Linked DNA regions of Homo sapiens: regions 1, 3 and 4 are each linked to region 2. The links come from fine-mapping of genetic effects on gene expression. A gene starts in region 2. Each other region holds a variant in brackets. All regions are shown on one strand. Distances are from middle to middle.

Region 1 (2,686 bases), 24 kb after region 2:
AAAATATAAAGAGAAGTGATAAATTGGTTAAAATATGAAAGAGAATGGAGAAAGAGTTAACAGGCTTAATGCCGCAAATCCTCTTAAAACATCAATAAAGAAAACAATCACGGGCAAACAGAGAACCCAGGCACACAATTCTTAGAAGTACAAGTATGTAACAAAATTCATGAGAAATGTTTGACATCAAGGTTAATCAGAAGAATGAAAACCAGCAAAATTAGACCATTTTCACAGTTCATAATTATATGTTTTAATTATATTTCCTGTTTATCAGGTGAAGTGGGGTGGGCATGGGAGAGCAAGGGCTATAGTTCTGGTCTGTTTTGAGAGAATCTGCCCCTGGGAAGCAGAGTTGACTGACAGCTCCAGCTATCCACCTCTTGGTGACCCCCCGCCAAAGCTTCAACATGACCAGGGTCCTCATAGCAGCCCACTCCTGCCTGTCACAGAATGGCCACCAGGCTTTGGTTTGGAGACTCCCTATCCCCTGCCCAAAGCTTTTAGAATCACACAGCAGTGGGAGACCCTTCCACAGGATCCTTTCCTTTCTTGCCTGCAGAAATGAGGGTCTGAGGCGCTCCTGCTAGTCCTGCCTCATCTCTCTTCATCTTTCACTGGCATTTCTCCCTAATTCCATTGCGTTGTGATGATGGGATTCATGCACCCTCATATGCTGCTAAGGAAAATGTAAATGAGCACAACGTTTCTGGAAACTATAAGTGATTGAATTATGACACTCCCTCATTCAATTGAATATTGGTGTGGTCAGTAAATATCAGGTTTGGGAAGAGCCCCAGCGAGGAAATTTCTCACATTATAGTCTTCAATGGATAAAGCAAGAAGCAAAACTACATCAATAACATGACATCAGCTTTAAAAACTATCACATGTAATAGACAGATCCACAGAAAAAAGAAGGGCAGCAAATTCACCAAGATTTATAGGACAGCTCCCTCCAAGGGTGCAACTGTGAATAATTTTTATGCTTCTGCTTATACTTTTCTGTATTTTCCACATTCTCTGCAAAAAAAAAGTATAAATTATTTCATAATCAGAAGATGTTGCTTTAAAAAAGTAAGATTAAACATAAGCCAAAACAAGAGGTAGCAAGAGTCCAGTGTGGGCCGAGCGGAAAGCGGGGCATTGAGGTGAAAGGAGGAGCCGTGCCTACCGGGGGAACTGGATATGCACAGGGCATGATCTGAACTGTCAGCGAAAATGAGGGCTTGTGAGAAAAATAGCAGGAAGTCCTAACAGAGAGCTTCAGGTCAGAACAGCAAAGAGCCTTCAGTGCCAAACTCACCGTGACAACCACCGAAGGTGGTTCTTTAGCGTCGTCAGTTGACCAACACTGCTTTCCCCATAGCTTTCCTCTGAATTCCCACATTAAAATATTCATCTAGAGAAAGGACCCACGCCCAAACCAGCCAGAAATACTTTGGATCTCAATGGCCGTGTTCGCTTGAACCTAATTCAGTGGGACAGCAGCTGTCTGGGAGACAGCCTCGGGCCGGAGCCAGCAGAAACACGGCCGCAGCACTGTCCTCACCTTCTAGACAGGGAGGTCAGACTTCCCCGGAAGAGGCTATTTCTCTGGATTTGTTTTTC[C/T]TCTGTTGCTTAATTTGTTTTTTCAGTTGTAAAAGAAGACATTTGGGAAAGATTCCATTTGCTTAAATTACACGCTGGTCACGCCTTCCAAGAACGTGACTCTGGATACTCGGCACATCGAGGGGTGCCCCTGTGTTGCCACTTTCTGGGATGTGCGGTGACCCTAAGATGTATTTTGAAGGTGGGGAGTCATGATAAGCAGAGTCAGCATAGATGCATTCCTGGGGTGCTAACCCCTCGAGAACTCTTTCTGGTAAAAGCACACCTGCTTCCCTCTCACATGGACAAGTGGGGCAGGGACCCATGACTCCCCATCAGTTCTTGAGAGAAGAGTGGCTGGGAATAGTTCCCATCTCCCCTTCTTCCGGTGAACACTGGGCCTGGAGAGACCTCTTCAGTTCAACCATGGGCAAAGACACAAGCAAAAATGAGAACAGAACACAAATCCCCGCCCCGACCTCGAAAAGCTGGAAGAACGTGCTTTTGGAAATGACCTTGAGCAATGTTTCTTAGCCATGTTTGAGCTTGTAGCTTGGGCAAATTATGACAGTTGATCTTCTAAAGAGGTTTCCATTTGGAAAAAATAATAACAAAGCCCTGGAATGCCTATGCTCAGAAGCCTACCAGTGCCACTGGGCTCCCTTGTTGTGCCTTTTTGGCTCTTAGGGAATCCTGCAGAGCCCACCTCCCTTGAGGACCTGCCTTTGTCTGCTCCTCTTTGCTTTTTACTCTTGTGTCTTATAACAAGCGACACCTGTCACTCTGAGACATAAACCATGTGAGGCCATGTGACCAAAGGTCCCACCTGGAGGAAACTTCCCTCCCCCTAGAGACACTATTCGCTGTCCAGGTAGGGCCTTCCTGGGCCACTGTGGATCTGACCTATCAGGAAGAGGGTCCCACAGTCCCCAAAGGCTGCCTGTTCCAATCTCCTTCCCTGCTAGGGACAAGGCAAAGAGAGAGAAGGAGGCCTGGGAAAGGGAGGGAGAGCAGGAGGGAGGTGGGCCAACCTCTCCTCTCCTCCTTTCTTTCAAGTATGAGTAGCAGGGCTATCTTCTTCCAGTCTATGCATCTT
Region 2 (2,686 bases):
GCTATTGGTCAGGAATATTGTGCAAAAGACTTCACTTAATTGGAAAAGTATTCATTCTTGGTGGTCCCCAATGCCCCCAGGCCCTCAGCCATAGGATGTGGCTCTCACCTGGACAGTAGACACCTTGCTTCAATTTTCACTCTTCGCCCCTGGAAACCGTCGGCTGTTGGGGGTGAAAGGAAACTCCATAGTACTATACTGAGGTGACGTTTCCACCACCAACCATCTGCTTGGGCCCCTCTTAATTCTCCACCGGAGACTGGGGCTGCCTTCCTCAGGGATCCCAGCTATCTCTCAACACCTCGTCTTCCTCCAAGACTGGAGTCTTCGTGGAGTTCTGAGGAATTCACTTTCCAAGCAAGAAGGTTTTGGGTCCTCATGTCATCTTCCTCCAAGACTGGAGTCTTTGTGGAGTTTTGAGGAATTCACTTTCCAAGCAAGAAGGTTTTGGGTCCTCATGTCATCTTTCTCCAAGACTGGCATCATCTCGGAATTCTCAGGAATTCACTTTCCAAGCAAGAAGGTTTTGGGTCCTCATGTCATCTTCCTCCAAGACTGGCATCATCTCGGAATTCTGAGGAATTCACTTTCCAAGCAAGAAGGTCTTGGGTCCTTGTGTCTGGGGGACTCAATGCCCCCAGGAATCCTCCCTCCTCATCATGGGTTGCTCGTTGCAAGTGAAAGTCTCGTGCAGTAGGTTCCCTGTGCCTTCTTCTCTGGCCCTGACTTTGACAGGAGACCTCTTCTGGTGCCTTCTGGACCACCTGCTGCCTTACATCTGGGCTCCATACCAGAATCACCAGCATCCACTCAGAGGACACTGGGCAGCTATAACACTTGTTTTTTGCCGGGGCCAGTCCTAGTCCAATAGGGTTTCCAGGCACCCACAACAGCTGCCCAGGCAGCAAATGTCAGTCAGTTGTAAACCAGCCGGGTAAGACTCACACTTTGGCTTCCCTACATGGACTTCGTTTTGGGAGAAATTCCAGGATTTCAGACTCTCAGGGCCCATGGTCACTGAGCTCAATGTCCCCAATAGGTCACACCCTGCAGCTGCACCTCTAAGAGCTTGTGCTTCTGCCAAAACAATAAGCTTCTACTAGATGGGTCAGATCCGTTCTCTGACTTGATGCAATGGCCACTGTCCCTTCAGTCTGGCCCCTCAGCATCTGAGTCAGTGGGAATGTGATGGGCCCCATATGTAGAAGGAAGAACTGAAAGGAAGCACAGGAAGAACAGGAAGGAAGCAAAAGAAGGAAGGAAAGGAAGCCACCAGCTTCCTGCTGAGTCTTGATTAGGGCTCCTGGACAGATATTCTCCTCCTCCTGTTGCAAAAACTGTTGGAATTAACATAAAGCCTCTGAGCCCAAGCTTCCTCAAGTGTACAATGAGGATACTGGAGTCCGGAATCTCTGAGTGCTTCTCTGTGATGGACAGAACAATGCCCCGACAAAGATGCTCATGCCCTCCTCCCCAGAACCTGTGAATATGTCACGGTGCATGGCAAGGGGGGAATTAAAGTTGCCGGTGGAATTTAGGTTGCTAATAGGCTAACCCTAAGATGGGGAGATTAGCCTCGATTATCAGGGTGAGCTTACTGTCATCACAGGGACCCCTATAAGTGAGAGAGGGAGGCAAGAGAAGTAGTGTCAGAATTAGAGACGAATTTGCAGAAGCTGGCTTTTAAGATGGAGGAAGAGGCCATGAGCCGAAGGATGCCGGTGGCCCCTAGAAACAGGAAAAGGCAAGAAAAAGGTTCTCCTCTAGAGCCTCCTGAGGAGCACAGCCTTGCCAACACTTTGAACTTTGCCAGTAGTTTGAACTTCTGTCTTCCAGAACTGTGAGATAATAAATCTGTACTGTTTTAACTCATTTATCTTGTGGTAAACTTGTAACAGCCGCCGTAGGAAGCTAATTCACCCTCATCCCTCACATTCACACCACAATCTCCTTCTTCTCACCGGCATTCCATCTCCTCTGCCTCCCAAGTCACAGAGCCCCAGGTGCCACAATGGCTGTGGAGTCTGCGGTGCAACCTCATTGCAAATATTTGTATGCTCGGAAGAAAAACACGAGTACAATGTCCTATATTTACGAGGACCTTACTACTCTTAAATCGCTGTCGTTCAAAAACAAAACAATTTTTTTCAGCGTGTTCTTATACGCCCATTACTGAGCTGGTCCCTGGGGATGCAAAGACACATGGACCTCATTGTTTTCCTCCAGGAATTCACTTGGAAAAAGAAACACGGGAGATGCTGCCTAGAATCCTTGATGCCTCCGAAGTTAGACTGGAGTTGGATTAACCCGGCCTCTCTCTGTGGAAATAGGAGATGGCTAGAAGAGTGACATCAATCAGCCACAACTGCTTCAGCCTCATAACGTCGGAGCAATGGTATCAGACTTGATGCAGAGACTACCCGGGCATATGTGGCTTTTTTTTTTTTAAATGTAGTGAAAAATTCCAAGTCACAGCCACAACACTGAACTATCAAAAGATCATTTCATGTTTTGGTTTGTATTAAATGCTCTTTGCACTTTGCTTTTGTTAGAGATGGCTAGAAAATTCTAGAAATAAGGAGTGCTAGAGAAGAATCACTGCTTAAGAGCAGGATCTCAAAGAATACATCCTTTGCCCCCTATATCCTCTCCCCTTTCTGATTCTCAAAAAGACACTTCAAACTGA
Region 3 (2,686 bases), 240 kb after region 2:
TTACTAAATTTTTTTTTTTTATTGAGAGGGAGTCTCGCTCTGTTGCCCAGGCTAGAGTGCAGTGGCGCCATCTCGGCTCACTGCAACCTCCACCTCCCGGGTTCAAGAGATTCTCCTGCCTCAGCCTCCCGAGCTGCTGGGACTACAGGCGCGTGCCACCACGCCCAGCTAATTTTTGTATTTTTAGTAGAGACGGGGTTTCACCATGTTGGCCAGGATGATCTCAATTTCTTTTTTTTTTTATTCAGACGGAGTCTCGCTCTGTTGCCCAGGCTGGAGTGCAGTTGCGCGATCTCGGCTCACTGCAGTCTCCGCCTCCCAGGTTCACGCCATTCTCCTGCCTCAGCCTCCAGGACTACAAGCACCCGCCACCACTCCCGGCTAATTTTTTGTATTTTTAGTAAAGACAGGGTTTCGCCGTGTTAGCCAGGATGGTCTCGATCTCCTGACCTCGTAATCCGCCCGCCTCGGCCTCCCAAAGTGCTGGGATTACAGGCGTGAGCCACCGCGCGCGGCCTCGATCTCTTGATCTTGTGATCCGCCCGCTTCGGCCTCCCAAAGTGCTGGCATTACAAACGTGAGCCACCGCGCCCGGCCACAAGTTACTAAATCTTACCAAAAAAAAAAAAAATCCCAACTCAGTCACCCTAGCAACCTACATCCTTCTCTCCCCGGAGGTAAAACTATGTTAACACCTGAATATTCTTCCAGAGATATTTTATGCATACATGGTACAAGCAAAAGGCACATACAATCGTATCATTTTACATAAATATTGGCACTCTAAATTCATGGAAAGTTTGAGCTACAGTTTCCTCTTCTATAAAAGAGTGGTAGGGAGGATTACATCACAGAATTATGCAAAATGCCATGGAATCAGCACTCAATAAAGACAAGTCTCCCTTTCCTTACCCTGAGAAGGGCTGTGAGGGAAAGGGGTCTTCAGTGTGCCTCGGAATCACCTTGCTGCCTAGTAATCACAGCTTCTCGGGCCCCACCCGCCACCGTCCTCAGAATTTCCCATTTAGAAGGTCCGGGATAGACTCCTAACACTGGCATTTCCAACGAGCTCCCCGACATTGGAGATGCTGCCTGGCTGGAGGACTATCTGAGAACCTCAATGTCTAGTGGAAACTTACGTGCCCTCGATTCCAACCAGGCTCTACCCCATGAACAAATTACTCTTGCTGAGCGCC[A/G]GTGTGAGTAGAAAGAGCTTCCATATCAAAGGCTGCTAGGAGGATTACCTAAGATAACGCAGGCCTTGCTCAAGACAAACGTTCAGGAAATCAAAATCGGTTTGGAGATGAAATGGGAAAGACAAGAGCAGCTCCAAGGAGAGAAGAACGTCCAGAAAACCAAGAAATAGGACTGGTAAAGGGTGCTGACCAGGTCCCTGGAGCTGCACCCCGCCCCGTGCGCCTCCCCAGCCCCCCGGCCGCACCGTGCCCACCCCGCGCTCGTCGTCCCCCTCGCCCCCAGCGCCACCCTGCACTGCGGACCCGGGACCGCCTGGGAAACGCCCTGGTCTGACATGGCTTGGGGCTCTGGGCAGAAGCCAGGTCTGAAAACCAAGGTTGGGGCCTCATGTGTTAGTCTGGAAGCACCAAGCACCGCATACCAAAATACCTCGAGGCAACCGTATGGCTTTTTTTTTTTTAATTAAGTTGTTCCCGGGCGGTGGCTCACGCCCGTAATCCCAGCATGTTGGGAGGCTGAGGCGGGCGCGTCCCTTGAGCACGGAAGCTGAGGCTGCAGAAGGCTGTGGTCGCGCCACTGCACTCCGGCCTGGGGGACAGAGTGAGCCCCTGTCTCAAAAATATAAAACAAAATAAAAAATTAATAATTAAATTAAATGTGTGTAAACATGTAGGTGACCTTCTAGCCCTCGGTGAACCAGACTAAAAAACGCTCCCGCACTAGGCGTGGTGCCCGGAGCGGCCCCGCCCTCGGAGCACGCTTGTGCGCCAAGGCTGGTGGCGGAACGCGGACGTGCTGCAGGCAGGGAATGAAATGGCGGAGGAAGGCGGGGCAGGGCGCGGCCGGAGCTCCGCGGCCAGCCGCCAGGGGGCAGCCGCGCGTCTGCGTCCCGCGGGCGGCTAGAACCAGTCCTGCCGGAAGTTGGGGCGGTGCCTTCGCTTCCGCGGAGCCGTGCCACGTGGCCGGCCCGGAGGGACAGGGGAAAACAACAAGATGGCGGCAGCCGGGGGCGGGGTCAGCCCGGCGTCCCTGAGGCTGCGAGCCCCTTAAAGGGCCGCGTTCGAGGAGCCGGGCGAGATGAACTGAGTGGTTTTACCCAGCCGTGGGGGCTGTTCGACTGAACATGGGCCTGGGCGGGGACAACCGCGCCAAGCGGACGCGCCCTCCGCCTGGTCGGAGTTCATCGACCCAGGCCCTGCGGGGAATCCCGCGGCGCAGTTCCGCAAAGCTGCCAGCGTGCTTACCAGTCGGGGCCCGTTTCTTTTGTCTCTGCGTTTGCTGCTCCGTGCAAACAAGGAGGACAGAAAACTCTTTATCGTGGCGTTTTCTTCCTGAGCGAGAGATTAGGTTGCTGCAAATCCAACGAGGCGAGTCCTCTTGGATCGAATTAATGCATTGGCTCTTCCCTTCGCAACAGCTTTGATGACCGTTTCCCGCCTTTGTGCAAAGCGTTAGAACAAACCCTACCTTCCTCCAAACGAAGGAGAAA
Region 4 (2,686 bases), 190 kb after region 2:
GAAGACATTTATGCAGCCAACAGACACATGAAAAAAATGCTCATCATCACTGGCCATCAGAGAAATGCAAATCAAAACCACCATGAGATGCCATCTCACATCAGTTAGAATGGGGATCATTAAAAAGTCGGGAAACAACAGGGACTGGAGAGGATGTGGAGAAATAGGAATGCTTTTACACTGTTGGTGGGACTGTAAACTAGTTCAACCATTGTGGAAGACAGTGTGGCGATTCCTCAAGGATCTAGGACTAGAAATACCATTTGACCCCGCGATCCCATTACTGGGCATATACCCAAAGGATTATAAATCATGCTGCTATAAAGACACATGCACACGTATGTTTATTGCAGCACTATTCACAATAGCAAAGACTTGGAACCAACCCAAATGCCCATCAATGATAGACTGGATTAAGAAAATGTGACACATATACACCATGGAATACTATGCAGCCATAAAAAAGGATAAGTTCATGTCCTTTGTAGGGACATGGATGAAGCTAGAAACCATCATTCTGAGCAAACTGTCTCAAGGACAGAAAACCAAACACTGCATGTTCTCACTCATAGGTGGGAATTGAACAATGAGAAAATTTGGACACAGGGTGGGGAACATCACACACTGGGGCCTGTTGTGGGGTGGGGGGAGGGGGGAGGGATAGCATTAGGAAATATACCTAATGTAAATGACAAGTTAATGGGTGCAGCACAGCAACATGGCACATGTATACATATGTAACAAACCTGCAAGTTGTGCACATGTACTCTAGAACTTAAAGTATAATAATAAACAAGTAAAAAAATAAAACTGTAAAATAAATAAGAGTGCTCTGATACCAAAGGGGTTGAATGAGAAAAAAAAAAAGTGCTCTGAAATTGACTCTGTTTACTTTACAGCAACTCACACATATAGGTCACAAAGCTGTGATGGAAAAACTTCAGTTTTACATCGAGAGAAAAAGTTTACTATTTGGGACTGGGTGCAGTGGCTCACACCTGTAATCCCAACACTTTGGGAGGCTAAGGTGGGTGGATCACCTGAGGTCAGGAGTTCAAGACCAGCCTGGCCAACATGGTGAAACCTCATCTCTACTAAAAATACAAAAATTAGCCAGGCATGGTGGCAGGTGCCTGTAATCCCAGCTACTGGGGAGGCTGAGGCAGAAGAATGGCTTGAACCCTGGAGGCAGAGGTTGCAGTGAGCCAAAATCATGCCACTGCACTCCAGCCCTCCAGCCTCAGCGACAGAGGAAGACTCCATCTCAAAAA[T/C]AGATAGATTAATTAATTAATTAATTTACTATTTGGGATACGACTTGACTGCTGAAGGGATTTCTCTCTCAACCATTCAGTTTTTCTCAGCCTGCAACCAAAAGACAATTAAGAGGGTTTCTTACACTTGCAGGATATTGCAGATCCTGGACCCTGAATTTTTCTGTGATGTCTTCACCATTGTATGAGCTCACTAGAAACACAGTCCCAGAGCCATTACCTTAAGAAGACAGTCATGAGCTGGCTTTTCACCATGAAATTGGCCTTATAACACCCCCCAGCTTTATGACTTTCAAATCAGGCTAAATCTTTTACCTTGTTCATTTCGAAACCTAACATCAGGCATTAGGAGTTCTTACCCAAAAACATGGGAGGAAACAGGCCCGTTGCCTATTATAGCCTACAATTAGACCTAGTAGCTGAGGCATATTCTAATTGTTTAAAAGCAGTAGCAGCAGAAGCCTAGTGGTAGAAGCTTCATATGAGCTGGTTTTAGGAAATAAACTTAATTTCATGTCCCAAATGCTGTAGAAAGTCTACTAAATTCCAACCAAACTCAGCATTTTTCAGCAAGTAGACTAACATCTTATGAAATTCTTCTCCTGTCTCTTTCTTCTCTCCATCTAAAATGCTGCAACCTGCTTATCCCTGCTATTCATTTACCTCTGCCTGACAATGGTGAAGATCACAGTTGTGTGAGTGTAGTATCAGAAGCTGGCTGGGTGCAGTGGCTCACGCCTGTAATCCCAACACATTGGGAGGCCAAGGCAGGCAAATCACTCGATGTCAGGAGTTCAAGACCAGCCTGGCCAACATGACAAAACCCTGTCTCTACTAAAAATACAAAAATTAGCCGGGTATGGTGGCATGCACCTGTAATCCCACCTACTTAGGAGGCTGAGGCGGGAAAATCACTTGAACTCGGGAGGCAGAGGTTTCAGTAAGCCAAGATTCACTGCACTCCAGCCTGGGCGACAGAGCAAGACTGTCTCAAAAAAGAAATAGTGGGCAGTGCATTCTGCTGTACTGTGGATCTGTCTCTTGCTTCAACAGTGTTTTGGCCGGGCGTGGTGGCTCACGCCAGTAATCCCAACACTTTGGGAGGCCGAGACAGGTGGACCACTTGAGGTCAGGAGTTCGAGATCAGCTTGGCCAACATGGTGAAACCCTGTCTCTACTAAAAATACAAAAATTAGCCAGGCATGGTGGCATGCACCTGTAATCCCAGCTACTTGGGAGACTGAGGCACAAGAATCACTTGAACCCAGAGGGCAGAGGTTGCAGTGAGCCTAGATCGCGCCACTGCACTCCAGTCTGGGCGATAGAGAGACACCCCATCTCAAAAAAAAAACAGTGTTTGGATGGACCAGACCCAGCCTCCCTATCTTCCAGCCTCTGACTCCTCTCCAATCTCC

Alleles and levels. Positions count from the first base shown, and alleles are read on the strand shown. Sizes are in standard deviations (SD) of each study's normalised expression. Not every link is listed here.
For the expression in thyroid of the gene that starts at base 1,186 in region 2, allele T in region 1 goes with a higher level than allele C (small effect, 0.39 SD a copy in GTEx).
With allele C in place of T in region 4, the expression in tibial artery of the gene that starts at base 1,186 in region 2 is lower (small effect, 0.24 SD a copy in GTEx).

What was found.
Region 1: its variant is fine-mapped to the expression of LINC00930 in thyroid (GTEx, PIP above 0.99).
Region 3: its variant is fine-mapped to the expression of LINC00930 in whole blood (TOPMed, PIP 0.96).
Region 4: its variant is fine-mapped to the expression of LINC00930 in tibial artery (GTEx, PIP 0.98).

Annotation. Positions count from the first base shown.
Region 1 is chr15:92,594,750-92,597,435 of GRCh38, forward strand. No RefSeq gene overlaps it. Among named protein-coding and RNA genes, the nearest start is that of LINC00930, 24 kb to the left of the region's middle. The variant C/T (reference allele first, on the strand shown) is at 1,612.
Region 2 is chr15:92,571,078-92,573,763 of GRCh38, forward strand. LINC00930 (long intergenic non-protein coding RNA 930) reads right to left here and starts at 1,186. Exons shown (of 4, transcript NR_021493.1): 1 at 109-1,186.
Region 3 is chr15:92,807,205-92,809,890 of GRCh38, forward strand. LOC124903558 (a long non-coding RNA gene) reads right to left here and starts at 2,680. Exons shown (of 2, transcript XR_007064767.1): 1 at 2,442-2,680; 2 at 701-1,805. RefSeq lists enhancers at 1,559-2,409, 2,346-2,465 and a silencer at 1,946-2,185. The variant A/G (reference allele first, on the strand shown) is at 1,197.
Region 4 is chr15:92,759,975-92,762,660 of GRCh38, forward strand. No RefSeq gene overlaps it. Among named protein-coding and RNA genes, the nearest start is that of FAM174B, 110 kb to the left of the region's middle. The variant T/C (reference allele first, on the strand shown) is at 1,272.